Linked DNA regions of Homo sapiens: all the other regions are linked to region 2. The links come from fine-mapping of genetic effects on gene expression. A gene starts in region 2. Each other region holds a variant in brackets. All regions are shown on one strand. Distances are between the middles of the regions. Region 1 overlaps NDST1 (N-deacetylase and N-sulfotransferase 1). Region 2 holds the start of NDST1 (N-deacetylase and N-sulfotransferase 1). Region 3 overlaps NDST1-AS1 (NDST1 antisense RNA 1). Region 4 overlaps SYNPO (synaptopodin). Region 5 has its middle 8.1 kb from the start of RPS14.

Region 1 (5,098 bases), 50 kb before region 2:
ATGTAAGTCTAGCTGCTTGGAGTCCCCCTTTCTGCTTTGTCCATTTCTATTTTTCATTAAGACTTTTTCATTCCACAAATGATATGCAAATGCATTATCCTTGTCTTATATATATTTCAGCCAAGGCTGAAGTCTCCTTTGAAAGTTCCCCTTCTCAGTCTTTCCTCCCCTAGTATCAGTTTGATATGAGACGTCTATCTACAACCCCAGGAAAAATACAAACTGTAGTGTTCTCTTTCCATGATGGTCACATTGTATAAGTCTGTCATAGAAATTTCCCTGGCAGGGCTTGGAGACTGAGCTCATTACTTTCAACTGAATCATCATTACAGTGAATGGATACACTGGAGGTTACCTAGCTGAGACCCTGTGGATGGACATCTAGGTTGTTCCCAGCGTTTTCCTATTGTGAAACACACTGCCCTACACGCATGATCCAGGCTTCTCCAAGGTAACTCCCCACCTCTAGAAGCCCAAACCACTCCTGGGGCACCAGATTTACTGGGTGGACATCCCCGTGGGGGGTGAGGAGGGGCTGATGGGCTGCTACTCATTCAGCCTATTAGAACTGCAGGACTTTTAGGACCTCTGGAAGCAACTGGGCTGGGTTTTCACAATGTGTTTTGAGAAATCTTAGGGTTCCAAGATAGCCTGAGAGACAGGGAGGAGGTGAGCTGGGAAGAGTCCAGAGCTTCACTCCCACTCCAACCACAGAGCACCCCCACCTTTACCTGGTTTTCAATTAAGTGATTCTTTCAAAACAGAATCTCAGCTGTATGTAAATTCAAAAATCCCTGTTGCAGGCTGACCCCTCAGTTGGCACAGTCACCTTTCTGCACCATGCCTCTGGATCTGCTCTTGTCCATGCAGCCTCCAGCTGTGTTCTTGCTGGTGAGGGCCACCTGACCCAAACCAAGCTCCCAGCTGACGAACTGCAAAGAGGGCTCTGCAGGTGCTGCCCTTGTGCCATCAGAGGTGGCACTGTGGTATTTCACTTTGAACATACTGGGTCCTGGGAAGCAGGACTGCCCAGCTGTGTCCCCAGCATGCCCCTCCTCTGTCCCTCAGAAGCTGTGCACATTTCTGGGTACCGTCTCTGACAAACATGGTGGCCTGATTCAGTGTTCCCAAACTTCCCTGAACACCAAGGAGTCTGTTAAAGTACACAGTGCTGGGTCCCACCCCAGAGGTTCTGAGTGAGCAGATTTTGGGGGAGCCCAGGAATGTATATTGTTTAAAGCTTCCCAAGGGGATTCTGAAGGAGCATGTCTGATCACCTGCATTGCAGACACTGGCCTGGGCCCCTACCTGTGAACTCTCCTTCTCCAGGCAAATCTCGAGTCTGGCCCTCAATTAGGCTGTGAGGGCTTCAGTCATTTGTTTTACCCTAAGTTTTCCTGGACAGTGGGGCTCTCCGTATTAATTAGAACCCATAGGAACCATGGATCTGAGTCAGAGTTTCCCACTCTGAGCCAGAGTTACACTGGGCTGCCTCAGTGTACTGGAGGGCTCCTTATAAATTCCTCAGTGTACTGGAGGGCTCCTTAAAGATGTTGGGCCCCACCCCACATCTGCTGGAGCTGAATCTCTGGAAGTAGACCTGGGAATCTGCATGTTTTAGGCAAGTTCTTCAAGTGAGGCCATGGAGTCCAACTCCCTCCATGCGTCTAAAAGGTGAGGGAAATGGGATAAAACAGTAAAAGTGGCTTGCCCCCAGCTACAATATACATTAGTAGCAGAAATTGTTCCAGCCCCCAAGTCTCCTCTCGGTCCAGTGCCCGACACCCAGGGCTTCTGAGCAATCCAGCTTGTCTGAGGGCTTCTATCACCTGAGATGCCCCCTGTGGCTGCCCTAGGATAGGCCTCTGCTGTATCTGGGAAATCTTCCATTTATAACCCAGTGAAAATGATCTGCGTTGACCAAGTCACCATGTGTATAGGTGTGTGCATACATGTGGGCACGTGTGCATGCCTGAGGTGGCAGGGACAAGCGGGCTTTGGCCGTGCATGCAAACACCCCTACTCCACCCTTCCCTGCGGGCCTTGCAAAAAGGTCAGACAGGACCAAGGTGTACAAACAGAACCCCACTTTATTAGCAGTTAGTT[C/T]GAGATTGTACATTAATGGAGGAAGGTCTCACCTTTAACACAACCCAAAACGGCTGGTTCGAGAGCCCTCATCAGGCGAACTGGATAGCACCCCCTCTCCCCACTCTCCCCACCCCCCTACAAGGGAAGGAAACCTCTGCCTGCTTCCCCAGTGTGCCCCCCACCCTCTCCAGTCGGCCCTCTCCTCTCCCAGGAAATGACATGAATTTCATGCACAAATTACAAAAGGAGCCCTCTTGCTAATAATAAAAGCTAACACAGTCATAGAAAACCCTCTCCTCCCTCATTCTCCTCCAGGGCCGGAAACAGTAAGAGCAGGAGGGATGAACTTCTTAGGATAAAACGCATCCAGTTTCCCCCAGGTTCCTGGCATTGACCCCACAAAACCCTATGCCAGTCCCTTAGGGAAGCTGAAAACTCGCCAGCCGTCTGAGCTGGCAAGGGCAGCCAGCCCACAGCTGTCAAGCCAGGAACCCAGTGTTGCCTCAACGGCCTGGGCAGCAGGGGGTCTAGGCCGCCCCCTCATCCTCACATCAACTAGAGCAGAGGCTGCCTCCTTTGATGTGTGAAAATCCCTGCTGTGGCCCCTATCTGCTCATTCTACAGATGAAGAAACTGAGGGCCTGGGAGGAAGATGGTCAGGCAGCTACTAAATGCACCCGGCTGGGATGAAACTTCACAGCTCCTGCTGCCAGCCAGGGCTCTTCTCACACCACAGCTTGCGGGAGGCAGTTCCCCATGTAGGCTTTTCCCTGCTGCAACTGAGAGCCTGGCTCTGCTCCAGTGCACACAGACCACGGGTCTCCAGGAAATGAAAACCCTGGGACCCCAAAATAGAAAGAGAGAGACATATGATGTGTTTGGTGCCCTGTGGCCCATCCCCAGGGTCGAAGGCCCAGCCTTCAGGCATGCAGCCTCCTCCTTCCAGAGCCCTGTGTCCTTCCTTCCAAGGCCCAGATATTACGGCCTTCTCCAGGGAGACTTTCCGGCCCCCCCAGAGCTCTTGCTCTAACTGGCCCCTCTGCTGTTTTGGCACTTGGTACAGGTGACAGTGGAGGCGCATCTTAGGCAGAAGTGAAGCTGTCAAGTCAGCACAAAAGGCAAAATCTCATGTAGCCTAAATTATCCTTGAAAGTACAGGGGATAGAAGAAGTGGTTATGCGACACCATGAGCAAACAATCTGACAAATTCAGAATGTGGGGCTTCAAAAAGACAGCAGGCCTAGGGCCTCAAAAACAATGTCATTTAAAAACTCAAAGTGAGCTGAGGGAAGACCTTTCAGCATTCAAAGAGGTTTTAAAAACATAGTTAGAAAATGCAATGTGTGCACCGTGACTGGATGCTGATTCCAAAACCAGACACATAAGTTACCTGGGAGACAATTGGGGGGATTTGAATACAGATTAGATAGCAGACATCGCTGGGAAATGACTTCTCGTCTTGGCTGTGATACTGGGCCAATGTGTAGGACAATGCCCTAACTCTTAGGAGATGCAGGCTGAAGCTTTCAGGGATCAAGTTTCATGATGTTTGCAATGTACTTTTAAATTAGGACAGAGAAAACATATACATACACAGAGAGAGAAAAAGAATGTGGCAAAATGTTAATAATTTTAGATCTAGATGCTGGGGAGTGGGCATTCATAATTAAATGTTTGGTAAAACATTGTTGTATTTGCTTTTCCCACTAACAAGCCCATGGGCACAGCTCTGTGCTGGGACCACCAACCTCTGCAGGTCAGCGCAGCAGCTCTCCTCTGCTGGGAACAGATGGCTTCCTTAGCTGGGCCCAGAAGCACTGACTGCTCATCAGGGGGGCTCAGAAAAGGCCCATTTTTAAACTTCAGACTCATCCTCCAAGCAGCAGGATGCTCCACCACAGAAGGCTCTGGAACTCTGAATGACTGAGGCAGCTGCAGGTGACACTCGCACCTGCACCCACCCTGGGGCAAAGGCTCATGGAGGGGACCACAGAATAGACGATGGAGCCACCTGAACAATTTCAGTTATTTCTCTCTCCTTTTTTTGGCCAAATGCTTAGAGTGAATTAGTGGACATTGAAGACTGGCCTCGCTGGCCCACTCATCTGTGGCTTCTCTTCTCGGGAGGGGGTGTCCTTGTACCCATTAGCTAACAGCCCCCCAGGCAGCTTATCTGCCTCTCCTTCTACCCCCCATACCTGCAAGTCCCGGCAGTGTCTGGACCTAGTGGGTCTTCAAGAAAGGTCTGTTAGTGGGAGGAGAAGTGGCAGCAGTGACCTAGGCAGACAGACTTGGAACATGTGGCAGGTCCAGTCTCCAGGCTTGCAGAAGGGTCCAGGCAAAAATCCAGAAGATCTCTGCTGTCACAGGATTTCCAACCGCCTGCTCCTTCCCATAGCCAGAGGCAGAGAGAAGTGGAGCTCCTGCCCTAGGCCAGCCCACCTCTCCTGCCTTCCATGCTCTGCGAGAGAGGCCTCCAGGCCTAGAGGGTAGATTTCCGAACCTGGGAGCTGTAAGATCCTCACCCATCCCGCAGCCCAGTCCCCTCACTGACGGATGGGACTCTGGAAGTCACTGCCCCTCTCTATAAGCCCCTGGCTCCATGGCGTGGGCATGTCTTCATGAGCACACAAGCAGACATGCCACCCTGTCCTCAGACCCTTTGCTGCTCATCCTGCTGGCCCAACGATGCCCAAGTTCCCAGGCTTGCAGGCCCCATTGAGAGGCATGATGGGGACACTGCTGTGTACACAGTGAAACCACCTGCAGCTGGTCCCACTGAGTGTCCAACTTTCTTCATCCCAGCAGAGAACTGGAGAAAAGGGAATCAGCTCAGAACAGACCCAGGCCCCCACAGGCTGGGGAAGGACCCCTCGAGGGAGAACACGACAGGGATGCAAACGCAGACCTCGGAATGAGAAGGCTCAAAGGCACCCTGGCTGGGAAGGAGTGGTTTGTCCCCATATCCTGGAATGACCATGCTGTGACGGAGGAAGGGACAGGAACCTGG
Region 2 (5,099 bases):
ACTCAAAAGGAACAAAGCAGCATATCCCAACACATATCATAACCTCCCTTACTGGCGGCCAACGTTAAGCTCCTGCGAACATGTGGGGCTGTGCCAGGAGCCTTACCTGCTCCATCACGCTCAATCCTAACACCCTGAAAGAGGTGTCACTGCTATGAGCACTTTACAGACAAGGAAATGGAGGCTCAGAGAGGGTAAGCAACCGCTCGAAGTCACACAGCTGGGCAGAGGTGGAGCTAGGATGCCCCTCCCAGCCCACCCCACAGCCCCTGTTCGTTACCCTTCTGCAGTCCTACTTTCCACACCACTCCCAAGCCAGGTCTGCAGCCCAGGAGAGAGGCTTCCTGGAGGTGACCAGGCCCAGGGCTGCTGACCCAGCTTCTCTAGCTGAGCTTCAGCCTCCTGGGAAAGCCTGCACTGCAGAGAGGTGCACCATGGAACCCAGCAAGGCAGGACTTCAGCCAGAGGGTCCTCACGCCCCCATCAGACACCCCAATATAAGAAAGGGGGATGGCGGCTCGGGGCAGTGGCCCCTGCCTGTAATCCCAGCACTTTGGGAGGCTGAGGCGGGTAGATCACAAGGTCCTGAGATCGAGACCATCCTGGCTAACACGGTGAAACCCCATCTCTACTAACAATACAAAATTAGCCAGGTGTGTGGCACATGCCTGTAATCCCAGCAACTCCAGAGGCTGAGGCAGGAGAATCGCTTGAACCTGGGAGGCGGAGATTACAGTGAGCCGAGATGGCGCCATTGCACTCTAGCCTGAGCGAAACTCCATCTCAAAAAAAATAAAGAAAGGGGGGCCACCTCCTGCCCCAGGCAGAGGCCTCATGCTAAGGAAGAGGCAGGAGCGAGGGTCAGAAGCAGGAGATCTCAGCTAGCAGGGCACCGCAAAGGACAATGGTGAGCACCTCGCCTCACGGCCTGGCATGTGCCAGGCGCTCTACCAAGCACTTCCCAACCCTCACTTCATTTATTTGTCATTTATGCCCAGTGAAGTAAAAACAATTTTATCACACCCTGAGCTTCTCCCCTATCTGCCTCCCCTGCAGAGGAGCTGGGAAATGTGGGTCACCACTAGCCCCCACCCTCCCGCATGCCCGACTCCAGGCCTCAGATACACCCTGAGAGATTCCAAGGCACAGGCAGACTCAGGGGCCTCCATCTCAAGGATGCAGAAGCCAAAATCCATGCGGGCCTGGAAACCACAACAGCCTCCCAGTCCTTCCCTCCCAGTCATCCCCTTCCTCTCATCAGGGGATGAGAGGTCATTGTCCCCTGAATGAGCCAAGCTTCCCCAGCTTGTAAGGTCAGGCAGAATGCTGGCAGGAAGACAGAGGCAGGGGGTGCCACAGCCTCCATTGCCGCCTGTGAGTCTCTGGGCAAGTCCCTTCCCTTCTCTGAGCCTCAGTTTCTGCAACTGCAGTGAGGGGTATGGACTAGAGGAGAAGTCTGTGACCTTCTGGGGGTTATAGAACCCTTTGAGAATCTAATGATGGCTATTAGCAGATTCTCTCCCCAGACACACAAATTCAGAGTGGTTGTGACTGGCCCCCATCAAAAGCCAAGTTAAGAACATGGAAATTCTCTAGGGGCCCCTCTGGCTTTGACAAGCCATGGCTCTCACAGTCTAGACAGGACCAAAGCCACAAACACAACATCTGAGAGCCCTGGGATCTCACCATTTCAGCTTCCCCCGTGGCCCTGAAATAAATCTTTAAACTCTTGGACCTGCTGGCTTCAGGTGGATTTGTGGACATGCCTAGCTGTCTGGAGAAGCCACAGGAGAAACTGAGCCCTTCCTTCCCATCCCTCAGCCTCCTCCTCCTTCTCCTCCATCAGGAATCTGCCAGGTCAGCCTAGACCTCTCCCTGGGGCAGTTCCGGGAGCTGCTTCTGATCTGGAATGAAGGCAGGACCCAGTGCCAGGCTCAAGTGCCAGCCTGTACCCCCAGATCCCTCCTGGGGACACACACACACACACACACACACACACACTCAGATGGACCTGGAAGGACTGGACAGGGCAGGGGGCCAGGGACAGTGGTCAGAGTGGACAGGAGCCAGCGAGACAATGACCAGACCCAGACCCACCGGAGCTCCAGGCAGTGGCGTGAGGTTCCTCTTCACTTCGCCACGCCCTCTCGAATGTCCTCTCCTTAACACGGCTGCACCTAATCCCAGGGCCAGGAAAAATGGCATTACTGTTGGCCCAGTCCCCTCCCCAGGAGAAAGGGAAGGCAGAAGCAAGGGAGGGAGGTGGCCCTAGAGCACCCTGCGCCACCAACCACGTTCCTAGAAACCTCCACGCCCCTTCATGCCACCTCCCTTGTCAAGGCCTCCAGCCCCTACCTCCTTAACCTCAGAAAGAGGATGTCCTCCTCCGATTCTGCCCCGTGCCCAGGGAACCACTGGCACCTCGCCTGCCTCACCCAAGCCCTGCCTGGAGGAGCCTTCCACGGGAAAGGAAAAAGCATGTCCCTGACCCTCATGCTAGTGGGTCTTCTGACCCTCTCAAGAGAGGTAGCAGCCAACAGCAGGAGGAGCACTCACTGGCAATAAGGATAACTGGGTCCTGGTTCCAGCCCTGGCCCTTCCCCCTCCAGACCTCAGTTTCCCCACCTGTCCTGAGAAGAAGAGGAAGGACTGGTATGCCCAGCTGGAGGGAAAAGTGTCTATGATGCTGGCTTTTGGCCCCTGGCCCCACCCAGCTCAGCTGCCAGGCCCTTCCCTGTGCCCCACCCTGCAGAGAAGGAAGAAAGGTGACCGGCAAAGGTGTGGAGGGTGTAAGAATCCATGCTGGAGCCTCAAAGTGCTAGAGCTGAAAAGGGTCTTACAAAGACGAGACCCAGAGAAGAGAAGCAACTTGGCCACGGTCACACAGAACACTGGAAAAGGGCCAGGCTGGCCAGGGCTTGCTTCTTGACAGCAAATGCTTAAAAGCACCCAGCTGAAAAGGTATTTGCCTTCTTAGAGGATGCCAAGGAGAGCACAAGGCAACCTGACAACAGTAGAACTGCAGGCTCTGAGAGCTGCAGTTAAAAAAAAAAAAAAGGTATGTTTATACGTGGGGCTTAAGGATGGAGGTTGGGCTGGCTTTCCAGGCTCCTCATGTCACACCACGTGGGTGGCCAAGGGTCCTGCCAGCCACAGGGAAATCCTAGGAGCCCCTTCCAGGGATTAGCAGCTTTGGCCACCTCTCAAGAAGTCACCTAAGGCCCAGCAGGCAGGCCCAGCAGTGGTGACAGAAAGAATGGCTCAGATGGACACTCCAAGACTAGCCCACTCTGGAAGATGCCAGAGCCTTGGAGAGACTGAAAATCCCCCAAGCCCCGTGGCCAGTGAGGACGGAAGCCAGGTGGGCTAGGGATAACACAGAGGAAGGGAAAAGCTTTGAGCCATCTGGAGCCACAGAAGCCCCCTAATCTCCTAGAGGCCTGGTGGGTACAACACAGGGCCTGCTGAGACCAAGGAGGCTTCACCGAGGGCCCACATGAAAGCAGCCAGTCCCTGTAGACTTGCTGGGGCTTGTCATCACGACAAAAGCTGGCCACCAACACGCCTTGGGGTGTTAAGGGACTCAAAGTACTTACATGGAGGCGCAGCTGGCAGGGGGAGGGGGCAGAAGGTGGGGAGAGGTGGGGGCAAGTGGGCCCGGCTTTCTCTAGGACACAGACAACAGCTAGAGAACAGAAACGTGGAGCAAAAAGCACTGGGTGACCTACTTCACAGAGGCTCCTTTTAAAGAGGAATAGGAGGCCTCAGCGAGACTCTAAAAAGTACCTCGCAGGGGTCCAGAACAGTTCATGGGGCCAGGAGACCAGGGTTCCAGTCCTAGATCAGGAACTCACCCAGGACTAGGCTCAGGTGAGGCCCGCGAGGAGCCTTTTAGAAGGTGCTCACTGCCAGGTGCAGTGGCTCACGCCTGTCATCCCAACACTTTGGGAGCTCAAGGCAGGTTGACCCAGGAGTTTGAGACCAGGAGTTCAACACCAGCCTGGGCAACATGGCAAAACCCCTTCTCTACAAAAAAAAATTACAAAAATTAGACAGCGTAGTGGCGTGTGCCTATAGTCAGTTATATGGGAGGGCTGAGGTGCGAGGATCACCTGAGCCCAGGAGGTTGAGGCTACAGTAAGCCCAGATTGCACCACTGCACTCCAACCTGTGCGACACAGCTAGACCCTCTCTCAAAAACAAAGGTTCTTATTCTCCACAATGTGCAAGCACACAGCGGGCACCTCCTGAGACGCTGCACTTAGATGCCTCACTTGCCTCATCCTAGGCCCGGCCTTCTTACACAACCTGCCTGTGACCTCAGGCAAGTACCACTCCTTTCTCGGCCTCAGTTTGGTCACATAAAACAGAATCATGAAGCCAGGCATGGTGACACGAGCCTGTAGTCCCAGCTATTCAGGAGGCTGAGGTAGGAGGATTGCTGGAAGCCCGGGCATTCAAGGCCGCAGTGAGCTACAACTGCACTATGGCACTGCAGCCTGGGAGATACAGCAAGACCCCATCTCTAAAAAAAATAAAATTTTAAAAAACGAGTTAATTTAAAAAATTGAATCATGCCATATGATTCCATAGACCCTCCTAAATCTAAGCTGGGTTATTCTGTAGGGAGCATAACCGACCTCTGCAGCAAATCCCCGAAATGGGCACAGTGGCCCCAGCTTCCTGCCATCGATAACCTGTCAGTCACCACGTTGTCAGTGACCACGTTCCAGGCAGAATACACATTATACAACCACCTGATGCCATTATGTTCTGGGCTCTTTGTTAAATGCTTGGCCTCTACTTGATCATGGCCTCATTTTACAAATATGGAGCCTGAGGTCCACAGAGATTAAGCAACTTGCTTAAGGTCCCTGTTGGGAAGTGCTTAGCTGAGATTCGAACCAGCATCTGTCTGGTTCTTAATCCCCACATTCCATGGCATCAGCCACAGATAACAGAAAACCCACCAGGGCTGGGGAAATGCCATCAGCTCTTTGCACCTCCCACATTTTCTAGCATATAATGCCGGGGCTAATGTGAAGGCAGGCTGGTGGACAGCCGGGAGCAGGTAGGCAGGGATGGGGAAGTCCGTGTGG
Region 3 (5,099 bases), 30 kb after region 2:
TAGATAATAATAGTACAACATACCTCCCAGGGCTGTTGTGAGAATTACATAAGTTAAATATGTAAAGCCCTTAGTGTGTTATCTGTTATAGGACAAGCACTGTACAGTTACAGTTGTCCCTCAGTATCCATGGGGGAATGATTCCAGGACATTTCATGGATATCAAAATGTGTGGATATCCCTGATATAAAATGGCTTAATATTTGCATATAACCTATGTACATCCTCCCATATACTTTAAATCATCTCTAGATTACTTGTAATACCTAATACAATGTAAATTGTATGCAAAGAATTGCTATATTTTTTAGAGAATAATGACCCAAAAAAAGTCTGCACATGTTCAATACAGACAATTTTTTAAAATATGTTTTCGATCCATGGTCGGTCGAATCCACAGATTCAGAATCTGTGGGTATAGAGGGTTGACTGTTTAAATGTTAGATGAATGATTCATTGTGATCCTTTAGGTCTGAGATTTTTTTTTTTCTTTTTTTCTTTTTTCTTTTTTTCCTGCAGGCTGGAGTGCAGTGGTGTGATCACGGCTCCCTGCAGCCTTGACCTTCCAGGCTCAAGCAATCCTCCCACCTCAGCCTCCCAAGTAGCTCGGACTTCAGGCATATGCCACCAAGCCCAGCTAATTTTTAATTTTTTATAGAGACAGAGTTTCACCATGTTGCCCAGGCTGGTCTTGAACTCCTGAGCTCAAGCAATCTGCCTGTCTCTGCCTGCCTCGGCCTCCTAAAGTGCTGGGATTACCAGCCTTTTTTTTTTTTTTTTTTTTTTTTAAATGTGTCAGGCTCTCGCTGTGTCATCTGGGCTGAAGTACGGTGAGCAAGATCACAGCTTGCTGCAGCCTCAAACTCTTGCACTCAAGCAATCCTCCCATCTCAGCATCTCTAGTATCTGGGACCACAGGTACATGCCACCATCCCCAGCTATAAGTCTCCAATTAAACTTAATTTCCTCCTGGGCTTTTCCTCAGACCCTAATCCAAACCAGGCTTCCTGTATACACTTCACATCTCCCTCTTTATCACCCTCGTAGTTACCTGTCAGCTGCCACTCTCTCCCTCTAGATTGTGAGCTCCATGTGGGCAGGACTGTGTGTGTCTCAGACGCCCTGAGCCCCAGTGCCCCAAACAGCACCAGGCACATTGTAGGCAACCAGCACATACTTGCTGAATAAACAGATGAAATGAAAGTTCACAGGTTCATTATGAAACAGAGGACACTGTCTACCTAACAAAATGCCCATCAATGGTACTTCACTCTTCATTCAACAATTATTAGTGCCTCTTCTATAGTCTTCCTCACACCATCCTGGTGGCAGAAGGGAAATAGGGAGACACAGAGATGAATAAGATAGATGTGGTTCCTGTCCTCAAAGACTATACGGTCCACTGTGAGAAAGTGCCGTAATGCATAGGAAGATACAACGCAGTGTAACCACGTTGTTTTAGTCTGTAACAATTTTGTTTCCTAGGAGGCTGGGGCTGGTCTTTGGAACAATGAAAGTGAAAAGTAACTGAAAACAAACACTGTTGCCTACTTCAGCCAGCACCACCAGTTCCCAGCAAGCTACTTTTCTGTCTCTCTCCCTCCCTCCCTCCCTTCTTCCTTTCTTTCTTTTTTTAACAGGGTCTTGTTCTGTGGCCAAGGTTGGAGTGCAGTGGTGTGATCATGGCCCACTGCAGCCTGGACCTCCCAGGCTCAAGCAATCCTCCCACATCAGCCACCTGAGTAGCTGGAATTACAGGCACGTGCCACCTAATTTAAAAAGAAAAATTTTGCAGAGGCTGGGCACAGTGGCTGAGCTGAGGCAGGAGGATCACTTGAGCCCAGGAGTTCAAGACCAGCCTGGGTAACATAGGGAGATCCCGTCTCTACATACATACATACTCTAGGCATAGTGTTGTGCGCCTGTGGTCCCAGGTACTTGAGAGGCTGAGGTAGGAGGATCACTTGAGCCTGGAAGATCGAGGCTGCAGTGAGCCATGATGACATCACTGCACTCTAGCCTGGGTAACAGGGTGAGACCTTGTCTCTTAAAAAAAAAAGAATTGCCGGGTGCAGTGTCTAATGCCTATAATCCCAGAACTTTGGGAGGCCAAGGCGGGCGGATCACCTGAGGTCAGGAGTTCAAGACCAGCCTGGCCAACATGGTGAAACCTGGTCTCTACTAAAAATACAAAAATTAGCCAGGCATGGTGACGCACGTATGTAATCCCAGCTACTCGGGAGGCTGAGGCAAGAGAATCGCTTGAACCTGGGAGGCAGAGGTTGCGGTGAGCCGAGATTGCGCCACTGCACTCCAGCCTGGGTGACAGAGCAAGACTCCATCCGTTTCAAAAAAAAAAAAAAAAGTCCAGGCGCGGTGGCTCACGCCTGTAATCCCAGCTCTTTGGGAGGCCGAGGCGGGTGAATCACGAGGTCAGGAGTTCGAGACCAGCCTGGCCAACATGGTGAAACCCCATCTCTATTAAAAATACAAAAAAAAAAATTAGCCGGGCATGGTGGCGGGTGCCTGTAATCCCAGCTACTTGGGAGGCTGACGCAGGAGAATCGCTTGAACCTGGGAGGCGGAGGTTGCAGTGAGCTGAATTCACGCCACTGCACTCCAGCCTGGGCAACAAGAGCGAAACTCTGTCTCAAAAAAAAAAAAAAAAATTGTAGATACAGGGTCTCCCTATGTTGCCCAGGCTGGTCTTGAGCTCCCCAGCTCAAGTGATCCTCCCACCTTGGCCTCCCAAAGTGCTGAGATTATAGGCGTGAGCCACCACACCCGGCCAGTGCTGTCTTTAGAGCAGGAAGAGTAAGTCCTGTCCCAAGGGCATCCAGGCCACCACCTTTTTCTCTGCCTGGAAACCTATTTAGCCTTCAAGGTCCCACTTAAGTAGCGCTTGGTCCAGGAAACCTTCTTGCTCCTGCTAGAGGTCTGTATGGGCCCCAGTCACAGCTCTAGTGATTTTCTGGGAATATAGCAGGATTTGTCAAGGACAATCCAAATTTCATGTCATTTGCTTCTTTAAAAAAAAGAAAAGGTGATTCAATGAATGTGTAACTACATGTGATTTCATGTTTGGACTTCAGTGGAGGCAGAAAATAGCCTCTGTCAGACCACGTGACCTGATTTGTGGTT[T/C]GGAGAACATGGTCACCATAATTACAGCATTGACCACATGCTGTAACAGTTTCCTCTCTCTTTCCCTCCGCCCCCCACTGCGCCCTCCCTCCCCCAACACACACACACACACACACACACACACACACACACACACACACTGAACTTTTCAAGTGCTAGGACTGTTTTCCTCCTGGCAGACCTTGATATCTGTTAAACAAACAGCAGAGAAAATCTGTAAAATGGGAAGGCTATCCCTGCTTCAGCCATACAATGGATATAAAATGTAGAAACCGAAGACTGATATAGGGGATGTGGGTAATTCACAGCAATTAATTACTGACTCTGATGCATGCCACCTGCTTTCTTGTATCTGTTACTTCAGCAGCCCAGAGAGGTACAGCAACTTCCCCCAGGTCACACAGACAGGGGTGGCAGAAGACGTTTGGAATCCGGGTCCATCCAACTAAAAGATGCAATTATTGTCACCACTCACACTACCTCCCAGTACCTAGGGGCCATAAGCCCCCAAATTCACCAAGACCACCTGGGCTCTGTGCCTCCTTCCCTCACTTCCACGGGATTCCCTCGTGCCCTTTCCTTCTACACACCACTTTCATCAGTGCCACTGCTGTTTGAAGAGCACTTCCAGTGGGTTCCCAAAGAAGTCCTGTCTTGGGGTCCAGGTTTCCTGTTTCAGGCAGAGCCTAAAGATGCATGTTGTGCCTTCCCAGACCTTCATCCCTCACTCCTGTGTGCTGCTAGCACAATCCATTTCACATGTAGTACTTTCCTCCTGGTTTTGGTTTTGTTTTGTTTTGTTTTTTGTGACGGAGTTTCGCTCGTGTTGCCCAGGCTGGAGTGTAGTGGCGCGATCTCAGCTCACTGCAACCTCTGTCTCCCAGGTTCAAGCAATTATCCTGCCTCAGCCTCCTGAGTAGCTGGGATTATAGGCACCCACCACCACGCCCAACTAATTTTGTTTGTTTGTTTGTTTTTTGTTGTTTGTTTGGTAGAGATGGGGGTTTCACCATGTTGGCCAGGCTGGTCTCAAACTCCTGACCTCAGGTGATCTGCCACCCTTGACCTCCCAAAGTGCTGGGATTACAGGCGTGAGCCACAGCACCTGGCCAGAAAGTACTTTCTAAAAACCAGGAAGAAGCCAGGCAAGGTGGCTCACGCCTGTAATCCCAGCACTTTGGGAGGCCGAGGCAGGTGGATCATGAGGTCAGGAGTTCAAGATCAGCCTGACCAATATGGGGAAACCCCGTCTCTACTAAAAATACAAAAATTAACTGGGCATGGTGGCATGCGCCTGTAGTCCCAGCTACTTGGGAGGCTGAGGCAGGAGAATTGCTTGAACCCGGAAGGCGGAGGTTGCAGTGAGCCAAGATTGCGCCACTGCACTCCAGCCTGGGCGACAGAGTGAGACCCCATCTCAAAAAAAAAAAAAAAAGAAAGAAAGAAAGAGAGAGAGAGGAAGGAAGGAAGGAGGAAGGAAGGAAGGAAGGGAGGGAGGGAGGGAGGGAGGGAGGGAAGGAGACCATCCTGGCTAACCTCATGAAACCCTGTCTCTACTAAAAATACAAAAAATTAGCTGGGCGTGGTGGCGGGTGCCTGTAGTCCCAGCTGCTGGGGAGGCTGAGACAGGAGAATGGCGTGAGCCCAGGAGGCAGAGCTTGCAGTGAGCTGAGATCACGTCACTGCACTCCAGCCTGGGCAACAGAGCGAGACTCCGTCCCCCCACCGCCCCCCCGCCAAAAAAAAAAAAACAGAAAGAAAGAAAGAACAAATGAACTTTCTCATTCTGTACACCAATTCCTTGGTGCCCCACAGCAGCCCTGAGAGGTAGACACAGCGGAGATTTTTTTCACCCGCATTGTACAGAAGAGAAAATGAAGCTTTGCCCAACCTGCAGGAGATCCCCTCACCTTGCAAAAGAGCCAAGCTGTGGGATCTTCAGTCCCTGGACCATTTAG
Region 4 (5,085 bases), 150 kb before region 2:
TCCTCGGAGTCGAGGGACACGTCGGAGTCCGTGGGCGAGCGGCGGTAGAGGAAGGGCCTGGGAGGCGCGGGCAGCGGGCTCCGGGGACTGGTGCAGGACGAAGGACCGGCGGGCAACGGGCTCCGCGGGATGGGCGCGAAGGCTGCCCCCGGCACAGCAGCCGAGCCGGGGCGGGCGGGCTGTGGCGAGCGCATGCGCGGGGGCGGGGGCGGGGGCGGGGGCGGGGGCGGTGGCGCCCTCGGCGGGGAGAAGGGCCGCGGGTTCTCGGCGCCCGCCGACCGCGGGGAGGCGCTCTTGCGCCGGGCCGCATTGATGATGTTTCGCGCCAGAAGCGCCTGCAGCTGGCGGCTGGGGGGCCGCGCCTCGGTCTCAGGTCGCAGCGGGGACACCGAGCGCTCGCTCCACGAGGGAGACATGGGCGGTGGCGGCGGCAGCGGCGGGGGGCTGCTCATGCTGCTCCCGCGACCTGGCTCCCACGGGCCCGGGCTCACCCAGCCGTCTAGGCTGCTGGGGGGCCGGGACGCGCCCGGCGTCCAGGGTGGGGAGGTGGGCAGGCTCTCCCGGCGGTCCTGGGGAGAGAGCAGAGAGGGTGGGGCAGGCATTAGTGCTGAGGTCTTCCACACCGGGCTTTAGGAAGGGACGGAGTCCGATTTGTCCATTACACCGAGAAGGGAAGCCACCGATCCAAGTCAGGTAGTGCCTGCAATAAAACGCAGGCGCCCAAACTCTCAGCCCGGAACGCCTGAAGAGTCCCCGCTGTCTTGTGTCTGCCTCCGTGTTAAGAAGACTCGCTTTGGAGAGAGCCGCCTTAACTTACTAACTGAGCTTGGGCAAGTTACTTCACCCCTCTGGGCTTCAGTTTCTGCTTCTGTAAAATGGGGTGTGATAACAGTACTTAACCTTATAGGGTTGTTGTGAGGGTTAAATGAGATAACTGATGGAAAAGAACATTACATATATCGGCACATTCCTTGGAAGAAAGTGCTCAATAGATGTTGATTACCATAAAGAAATACCAGAAGGGCTTGGCGCGGTGGCCCGCGCCTGTAGTCCCAGCACTTTGGGAGGCCGAGGCGGGTGGATCACCTGAGGTCAGGAGTTCGAGACCAGCCTGGCCAACATGCAGAAACCCTGTCTCTACTAAAAATACAAAAATTAGTGGCACGGTGGCGCGTGCCTGTAGTCCCAGCTACTGCGGGGGCTGAGGCAGGAGGATCGCTTGAACCTCAGAGGCGGAGGTTGCAGTGAGCCGACATCGTGCCACCGCACTCCAGCCTGGGCAACACAGCGAGACTCTGTCTCAATTTAAAAAAAATACTAGAAGGATATACATGAAACTAACCAAAATGGTCACCTGTTAGGAAATGGGGTGAGAACAGGAACAGGGCACACAGTCTGAGGCACTGGGAGCTGCTCTGTCTGTGGCACATCCCGGGAAGCTTTCAGTCAGGCTAGCTGAGGGAGGCTTCGGTTTCCCCATGACTTAGGGAGAGGAGCTGGGAGGGAGGTCCCGGGCCCAGGGCCACATGGGAAGAACTAGATAGAGGCTGAGACTAGTGTCTCAGGGCCAAATGCCAAGTCAGGGTGGGCTCTGTGTGTCCTCTCATCTGACCACAGTGTCACCCTGAGCAGGGAGGTGGGGCCTAGAGCTCATGACCCAAGCCAGTCAGCAACTATTGAGGCAGGGGAACCTGGCTCTTCAGCCAAGAGAGTAGGCTGGGGCAGGGAGATGGGAATAAGGCTTTTTAATATATTACTTTTTATATAAGTTTAGATTTCTGAACCATATGAATGTATTATCTATTATCAAAATTAAAATGTAAAAATATTGACCATTATTATTTTTTAAGATGGAGTTTCGCTCTTGTTGCTCAGGCTGGAGTGCAATGGCACAATCTCAGCTCACCGCAACTTCTGCCTCCTGGGTTCAAGTGATTCTCCTGCCTCAGCCTCCCGAGTAGCTGGGATTACAGGTGCCTGCCACTACACCTGGCTAATTTTGTATTTTTAGTAGAGACGGGGTTTCTCCATGTTGGTCAGGCTGGTCTCGAACTCCTGACCTCAGGTGATCCGCCCGCCTCAGCCTCCCAAAGTGCTGGGATTACAGGCGTGAGCCACCGCGCCTGGCC[G/A]ACTATTATTAAAGTTGGACTTAGGGAAAGACCCTCTCAGCCCCAAACCATTTGCCATGTTGCCATGGTCACCTCATCATCTTTCCTTGGATGCCTGAACAGGGAGGAAGATGCCCCTGACAGATGGAGATACAAAAGGAAGTCGGGCCATTCCTCCCTAGGCAGCACACGCCCCTCACTGAGCTTTTTCACAGCAATGGGGAGGGGAGTGTGGTTTTGGAGAGGCCAAGATGGTGAACAGCTTGGAGGCTATGAAGCACTGGTCAGCGATGCAGAGCCATACCTGTTTCCTATGTACTTAAGGACTTTCAGTCTACAAACTTCATTCTCATCCTTTATCTCATTAGGTTTTCACAACAGACTAGTGAGGTAATTAGCATTACCACACCCATTTTACAAATGATGAAAATGAAGCTCAGAGGTGTAAATAACAATCTAGTGTGTTCTGCCCCACCAGGAAGTGTGTGTGTGTGTGTGTGTGTGTGTGTGTGCTGCTCAAAGGCTACATGTTTAAGCGGTTTGAACTGGTTTGAAAGTGGAGGGCTTGGGAATCCCTGCCTAACATGTATCTCCTGAACTTTCCAACTGTTCACCCAATCAGATTCCAGCAATAACCAGTCCACCTTGCCATTTAATCCAATCCAAATTCACTAGCAGTCATCCACCAGAGTTCAGAGCTAGCCAGTCCATTCCATGCTTCCTACCCGATCAAAATCTAGAACCATCCAAAGATTTATTCTTTCATCCAATCAGTGATCAGCCATAACCAAGCCAGTCATCCTCTCATCCAACTGAGAGTCTTCTAATTCCTCCCAATCCAAAGGAAATAGACACCAATTGTATGTTTTATCCAAACAGAATGTAGCAGCTGCTAGATGAGCCCAGACTCCAAACTGGAGCCCTTTAACCTAAAGAAGAATGTTATACAACAGCCTGAGCAGGACATTTTTCATGGGATACTAATGCTGGAGTGACCCTTAGAGACTCCCTAGGGACATCCAAGCTCCCAGTCATCAAGCTGAAAGTTAAGGCTCAGCCTGGGATCCCACTGTTTTCTTCCCAGGGTCAGAATTGTGTATACATGAGCCAGAGACACTGGGAGCTTCTCTGTGCCAGTGGAACATCCCAGTCAGGCTGGCCGCAGAAGGCAGACCCCACAGTTTAGGGAGAGGAGCTGGGAGGAAGGTCCCAGCTCCAGGGCTAGAAGAGGAGGGCTAGGGCCAAATGCCAAATCAGGGTGGGCTCTGGCATGACCCAACACCTGACCACAGTGCCACCCTGAGCAGGGAGGTAGGGCCTAGAGTTCATGACCCAAGCCAGTCAATAACCACCCAAGGCAGCGGAACCTGGGGTCTTCAGCCAGGAGAGTAGGCTGCACAGGAGAGCTATGATAACTACCTAAAAATCTCTAAAGCATTGTTTCTGCCTTTGGTGGCCACAAGGGGAATGCTGAGGCCAACAAGTGGAAGAAATAACAATTCAGCCAAGACTACAAAACAGAAGGGCTCAAACGGGATTGAATGTTGAGGGCAGTGGTAAGCAGATCCCCATCATCTGGAGATGGGCCAGAGCCTGACCTCACCCTAACAGCCATGCCTGGGCACTGACTCTGTGTGTATGTTTTTGAGTCGGGGGTGTGCACAGTACGAAAAGGCTGCAGGAAATCAGAACTGTTCACTTTCTGACAGAGAGCTCAATGCACCGTGCACACCAGAGCTCCTTGGGAATGCGGTGGGTGAAAATTCAAAAAGTAGCATCCACTCAACCCAACCCCAGACCCAAAGCAGGGCACATGTGTGGGGTGAATACATAAGTAGAACACAGTCAAACCTGGACTGTCGGAGACCAAATGGTCTCTGACCTCCTTCTGTAATCCTTTCACTGCACAGAAGGGGAAACTGAGGCCCAGAGATTGGAAGAGGTTGTCTGAGGTCACACACGAATCAGATGCAGACCTGGGGCTAGAACCCAGCTCTCCTGACCCTTGATGGCAGTTCTTTCCTCCCCACCAGGGGCAGAAACTCCATGCTTTTAGGATCCAGACAGTGAAAACAATGGCAAATGTGGGAAATGGCCAAATTTAGATAATGGGGAGCAGGGAGGGGACCTGAGGGAACTGGAGAGCGAATGCTGGCTAGAGGAATTTCTATTCCACTTGTAAAGAACCCAAACAAACCTCAACGAGAAGAGGTAGTGCATTTTCCCCAAAAATCCTCTAAAGTATTTTTGGCCAAACTCTGAGGGAAGGAAAGAACAAAAGGTTGCGATTTGCACAGGGTTCTGGCTCCCTGAGTGCTGTAGAGAGGAAGCCCTCATTTCCAACCCAGCACACGTCTGTACCAGTGCAGAACCAGACACACGGCAGGTGCAGGCAGCACGCAGGACACAGCCACACTTTCACACACAGTAATTGAGCAGGCCCACTCCACTTCCCAGGCTAGAATCAGGCAGGAGGAAGGGAACCCTGACCCCTAGCAGCACGGAAGAAAGAAAGAAGCAAGACGGATTTGAGGCAGAGTGTATTGAGAACATGAGAGAAAACAAAGTTGGGGGCAGAGCTCAGCCTGGCCGCAGGAGCTGCAGAATGAAGGGCGGGCTCTTCCATTGGTGGCCCTCAAGGGTAGAAGGGAGCAGGGGTCCAGGGCAGGGGCTTCACTCTGTTCTGGGAGAGGCCAGGCCTGAAGGAGCTGAGCTCACTCACAACTCCCCCACGCATACCCCCTCGATCTGTGTGAAATGAGCTCACTAAGAAGGCACCCCTGTTCCCATGGAGACAAGCCCAGAGCTCACAAAAACTGCAGGCTCAGCCCAGCATGGGCACTGCCTCCACCACCCCTTGCCCCACTGGGGAACCCAGAACTAGGGCTGGGAAAGAGAAGTGGGTGGTCCTCGGCCCCCAGCCTTGCGAAGCTTCCATCTGAATCCTGCCACTTGTGTCTGTATTCTCTCACCCCCC
Region 5 (5,099 bases), 50 kb after region 2:
ACATGTGGCTCCCTGCTTAAAGCTCTTCACTGCCTTCCCATGCAATCAGAATATAATCTACAGTTGGCCGGGCGCAGTGGCTCACGCCTGTAATCCTAACAGTTTGGGAGCCCGGAGCGGGTGGATCATTTGAGGTCAGGAGTTTGAGACCAGCCTGGCCAACATGGTGAAACCCTGTCTCTACTAAAAATACAAAAATTAGCCGGGCGTGGTGGCACGTGCCTGTAATCCCAGCTACCTGGGAGGCAGAGGTTGCAGAGAGCCGAGATCGCGCCACTGCACTCCAGCCTGGGCGACTGAGCAGAACTGTTTCAAAATAATAATAATAATAATAATAATAATAATAATAATAACAACAACAACAACAACAACAACAACAACGATAATAATAAATCTACACTCCTTGACAAGGCAGGGCCTAGCAGGCCCAGAGGATCTGGCCCCTGCCCTCAGGGACAGCCCTAACACTCTTCTCTCTCCTGGCCCCAGCCCCGCCTCCTTGCAGTTCCTCGGGCTCCTCCCAATTTTGGCAGCCTGTGCACTGCTGTCCTCTCTGCCCCTAAGGCTGCTCCTCCAGCCCTCCTCATGGCTGCACCTCGCACGCTTCAGGTCTCAGCTTCCATATCTCCTCCTGAGCCCTCCCTGTGCCTGAGCCCTGCCCACCTCGAGAGTGAGCCTACCTTGGAATCTTCTCAGGTGTGCGTATTTCCTTCATAGCCCTTACCACAATCTCTAATAATAAAGTTGTTGGCAGGCTTATCTGTATAACGCCTGGCTGTCTCCCCATTAGGTTGTCCCTTCCGTGGGGAAGGAGACCCATGTCTGTGTTATCCGTTGCTTTATCGCTCACCAGTGCCTGGCACACAGTAGGTGCTCAATAAACCCGCTGAATGAATAAACGACTCGGGATCCATGCCCTGGCACTGCCAGCCATTGGGCTGCCCTGGCACTGCCCTTCCCTTTGGATGGACTGAGCGCAGGCCCTCTGCGAGCTGGCCTGCGGCAGGCAGGGCACACAGAGGCCGGGTGCCATCTTTGTCCACTTCACCACCCTGAACCAGCTGAGTGACCTGGGCGCAGCCCTGACCTCATCCTACTTAAAGCTTCCCGCTGAGTAAAATGAGAATAATAATCTGAGCTCCTGGGGTGTGATGGGACACAAAGGGAGAATGTACATCAAGGCCGTCGTCACATCACAACCACATCCTAGGACGTCCCAACCATCTTCTGGGCTTAGACACCTCACCCTGCGCCTTCCGCCCACCCTCCACCCTCCACCCTCCACCCTCCACCCTCCACCCTCCACCCTCCACCCTCCACGTGTACCTGCCCCGCCGAGGCGGGTCCTTCCCCTGCAGCACGGAGATCTGGCGCCATCTAGCGGGCACTTCGGGAAGAGCGGGCGTTCCCCGCCCCTGTATTCCACGCACCGTGGGTGGGGCCGCACCCCGGGACCCCGCCCCGACATTCCTCACTGAGCAGAGTTGGGCCCAGGATCAAACCGAGGATCTGCCTCCGTTGGGTCAGAGCGAGGGAGACCTCTCACCCACCGCCCCCAAGGCCCAGGCCCCAACCTTTGATCTTACCTCCCACCCACCCCCTCCCCTCAGCACAGAGACTTCTCCCGAATCCCTGAATGATCCCAGGTCCCCTTTGATTCAAGACCTTTCCACGTGCTGTTTCGTGAGCTGGGAGTTTTCTTTTTCTTTTCTTTTTTTTTTTTTTTTTTTTTTTTTTGAGACAGAGTCTTGCTCTGTCGCCCAGGCTGGAGTGCAGTGGCACGATCTCGGCTCACTGCAAGCTCCGCCTCCCGGGTTGACGCCGTTCTCCTGCCTCAGCCTCCTGAGTAGCTGGGACTACAGGCGTCCGCCACCACGCCTGGCTAATTTTTTTATTTTTTTAGTAGAGACGGGGTTTCACCATGTTAGCCAGGATGGTCTCGATCTCCTGACCTCGTGATCCACCCGCCTTGGCCTCCCAAAGTGCTGGGATTACAGGCGTGAGCCACCGCGCCCGGCCTGAGCTGGGAGTTTTCTCCCACCCTCTTCTTCCTGTCCTGGCTGTCTCCTACTCCCATTTTGGGCCCTCCAGCAAGGCCCCTGAGCAAGCCAGAGCCCTCCGTATCCCCCGTTCCTTACTTTGTCCTTGTTTCTTGCCCATATTCCCTGCTAGACAAAGCCCCTTGGCAGCAGGCCGTGACACGGTCACTGTGTGGCGAGTGCTGAGATGACAGGTCCTGGGGCACACAGGGGCTCCCATCAGTTGCTCGCAGACCGCGTGTGAGTCCTGTGAGCACGGGGAGCAGGTGAATTACAGCCCTGGAGGACGAAGCCTGCCGGTCTCTAGAGGGGCATTGCTACAGAGGGAGCCATCTCCAGGCCTTTTGTAGCCCCTCCTCCCCTGGACCCTGGAGGGTGTGCACCTGGCCTAATCCCCAACACACACACCGCCGCTCTCCCTTGTGTGCCACACTTACACACGCAGACTAGCGCTCATGTGTGTTCTGGGGCTCAGACCAGCAATAGACCCATGACTCCACGACAGCTTCACAGCAGCCAACACTTTTGAGAAGGTCCTCCCTCCAAGTCCCAGGACCACCTGGGCCACAGTTGGTGTCTGATTCCTGGCTGTGTGTCCTGGTGAGCAAACTCACCCTCTCTGAGCCACAGCTTCTTCCCACCCTTCCTCTGTTGCATTTGCAAACTACCCTTCAAGGGGAGGAGGGGATAGAGCTCCTGGACAAATGACAGTATGAGCTGCTGCCGAGAATGGGGAGCACGGGGCCTTCCAGGTTGAGCTTGAGGACCCAGGAAAGGGCTTGGCTTCTGCTGCTGCAGGCTAATTCCTTGCTCTTCCTTCATCCAATCAACAGATATTTACAAAACACCTGTACCTGAGGTTACACGAATTGGGCTCTGGAGTCAGACTGCTTGGGCCCAGATCCTGGTGCCCCACTTAGAGCTGTTGACCTTTTCCTTGTGTCCTCAGTTATAACGGGGGGGATTAAACATTTTCTACCTCCTGTGGTTGTTGAGAGGAAGCTGCTTGCTTTCCACTTC[C/T]GGAATGAGAACTTTCTCCAGCTCCTGCTGCCACATTTGCCCCCACCGTCTTCCTTCCTCATTAGCACCTGAGGTGAGCTGTCCACATTCCTGCCTAAAGCCGATGCCTCCACATGCGCAGCAGAGGCCTTTACCTATTGCCTGCTCAATGTCAGGGCTCCAGCATGTTTTTCCTTCACTTCTAGACTATTCCCAGCAGTGTTAAAATATCTGTTATTGATGCAACCTTAAAAAAGGAAAAAAAAGAACCTCTTGATCTCACATTCCCATTCTCCATCTGCCCCCTGGCACACCTCTGCAGAAAAACTCAAGAGCTGTCTATGAAGGAACTGGGCATGGTGGCTCACACCTGTAATCCCAGCATTTTGGAAGGCCGAGGTGGGAGGACCACTTGAGCCCAGGAGGTCAAGACCAACCTGGGCAACTTAGGGAGACTCAGTATTTAAAGAAAAATGAGGGCCAGGCACGGTGGCTCATGCCTGTAATCCTAGCACTTTGGGAGGCCGAGGCGGGCGAATCACTTGAGGTCAGGAATTCGAGACCAGCCTGGCCAACATGGTGAAACCTCATCTCTACTAAAAATACAAAAATTAGCCAGGTGTGTGGTGCAAACCTCTAATCCCAGCTATACGGAGGCTGAGGCATGAAAATCGCTTGAACCTGGGAGGCAGAGGTTGCACTCAAGCCTGGGCAACAGAGTGAGACTCTGTCTCAAAAATAACAAAATTTTAAAAATTAAAAAAATAATAATAATTGGGCCAGGCATGCTGGCTCACACCTGTAATCCCAGCACTTTGGGAGGCCAAGGTGGGCAGATCATGAGGTCAAGAAATTGAGACCATCCTGGCCAACATGGTGAAACCCCTTCTCTACTAAAAATACAAAAATTAGCTGGGTGTGGTGGCGTGTGCCTGTAATCCCAGCTACTCAGGAGGCTGAGGCACGGGAATTACTTGAACCCAGGAGGTGGAGATTGCAGTGAGCTGAGATCACACCACTGCACTCCAGCCTGGTAACAGAGAGGGACTCTATCTTAAAATAAATAAATAAATAAATAAATAAATAAATAAATATTGGAAAGAGCTGTCCAAGAGGTGTGGACCTCCCTCTCTTACTCCATTCACACTTTTGCACTCCCCCCACCCAGCCCCCCAATCAAGCTGCTGTTGTCAAAGTCCCCAGTATTTCATGTTGCTACATCCAACGGTCATCCTTAGCCCTTGTTATCCTTGACCTCTAAGCGCGATGGCACAGGTGCACACTCCCTTCTGCTTGATTGCATTTCTCCAGTTGCCTTCTGGATGTGCCCTCTCCTGGTCTCCTTTCATTTCTGTTCATGGCTTATTTTCTTGGCTCTCTCCTTCTCTTATCCCCATGCTCTCAACGCTCAGTCCTTAGCCTCTTCTTTATCTACACTCAGCCCCTTGGCGGGACTCGTGATTAAAATCAGTCTTGTGATTTTAAATACCATCTGTATGCTGGAGACTCCCAAATTTACACCTCCAGCCCTGATCCACTTCTCAATTCCAGATTCATCTATCTCAGCTGTCATTCTGACAGCTCCACTCGGGTATGTAATAAACAGCTCAAACTCAGGCCTACGAGTGGGCATCTGATCTTCCCCTAAAAACCTCCTCCACCCTCTGCCTTCCCTACCCCAGCTGAGGGCAACTCCATCCTTCTGGTTCCTCCAGCCATAAATGCTAGAATCATCTTTGACAACACTCTTTTCCCATGCCCCATGTCTAGTTTAATCTATCAGTAAATCCTGTTGGATCCATTTTCTCATTTTCTTTTCTTTTTCTTTTTTTTTTTTTTTTTTTTTGAGACAGAGTCTCACTCTGTCACCCAGGCTGGAGTGCAGTGGTACGATTTCAATCTCTGCCTCCTGGGTTCCAGCGATTCTCATGCCTCAGCCTCCCGAGTAGCTGGGAGTATGGGTGCGCGCTACCATGCCCAGATAATTTTTGTATTTTTTGTAGAGATGGGGTTTTGCCATGTTAGCTAGGCTGATCTCGAACTCCTGACCTCAATTGATCC

What was found.
Region 1: its variant is fine-mapped to the expression of NDST1 in blood mononuclear cells (TOPMed, PIP above 0.99). The same link has a PIP of 0.9 or more in lung, sigmoid colon and whole blood.
Region 3: its variant is fine-mapped to the expression of NDST1 in whole blood (TOPMed, PIP above 0.99).
Region 4: its variant is fine-mapped to the expression of NDST1 in whole blood (INTERVAL, PIP 0.98).
Region 5: its variant is fine-mapped to the expression of NDST1 in whole blood (TOPMed, PIP above 0.99).

The regions. Positions count from the first base shown.
Region 1 is chr5:150,555,186-150,560,283 of GRCh38, reverse strand. It overlaps NDST1 (N-deacetylase and N-sulfotransferase 1), which reads right to left. Exons shown (of 15, transcript NM_001543.5): 15 at 2,073-5,098. Among named protein-coding and RNA genes, the nearest start is that of NDST1, 50 kb to the right of the region's middle. RefSeq lists an enhancer at 3,007-3,176. The variant C/T (reference allele first, on the strand shown) is at 2,107.
Region 2 is chr5:150,505,225-150,510,323 of GRCh38, reverse strand. NDST1 (N-deacetylase and N-sulfotransferase 1) reads right to left here and starts at 2,193. Exons shown (of 15, transcript NM_001543.5): 1 at 2,098-2,193. RefSeq lists an enhancer at 1-209.
Region 3 is chr5:150,475,617-150,480,715 of GRCh38, reverse strand. It overlaps NDST1-AS1 (NDST1 antisense RNA 1), which reads left to right. Exons shown (of 3, transcript NR_105061.1): 3 at 4,957-5,099. Among named protein-coding and RNA genes, the nearest start is that of NDST1-AS1, 7.8 kb to the left of the region's middle. RefSeq lists a cis regulatory region at 3,811 and an enhancer at 3,727-3,896. The variant T/C (reference allele first, on the strand shown) is at 3,142.
Region 4 is chr5:150,651,888-150,656,972 of GRCh38, reverse strand. It overlaps SYNPO (synaptopodin), which reads right to left. Exons shown (of 3, transcript NM_007286.6): 3 at 1-569. Among named protein-coding and RNA genes, the nearest start is that of MYOZ3, 6.8 kb to the left of the region's middle. RefSeq lists silencers at 172-231, 372-591 and an enhancer at 4,855-5,085. The variant G/A (reference allele first, on the strand shown) is at 2,130.
Region 5 is chr5:150,455,294-150,460,392 of GRCh38, reverse strand. No RefSeq gene overlaps it. Among named protein-coding and RNA genes, the nearest start is that of RPS14, 8.1 kb to the right of the region's middle. RefSeq lists an enhancer at 518-617 and a silencer at 1,422-1,491. The variant C/T (reference allele first, on the strand shown) is at 3,060.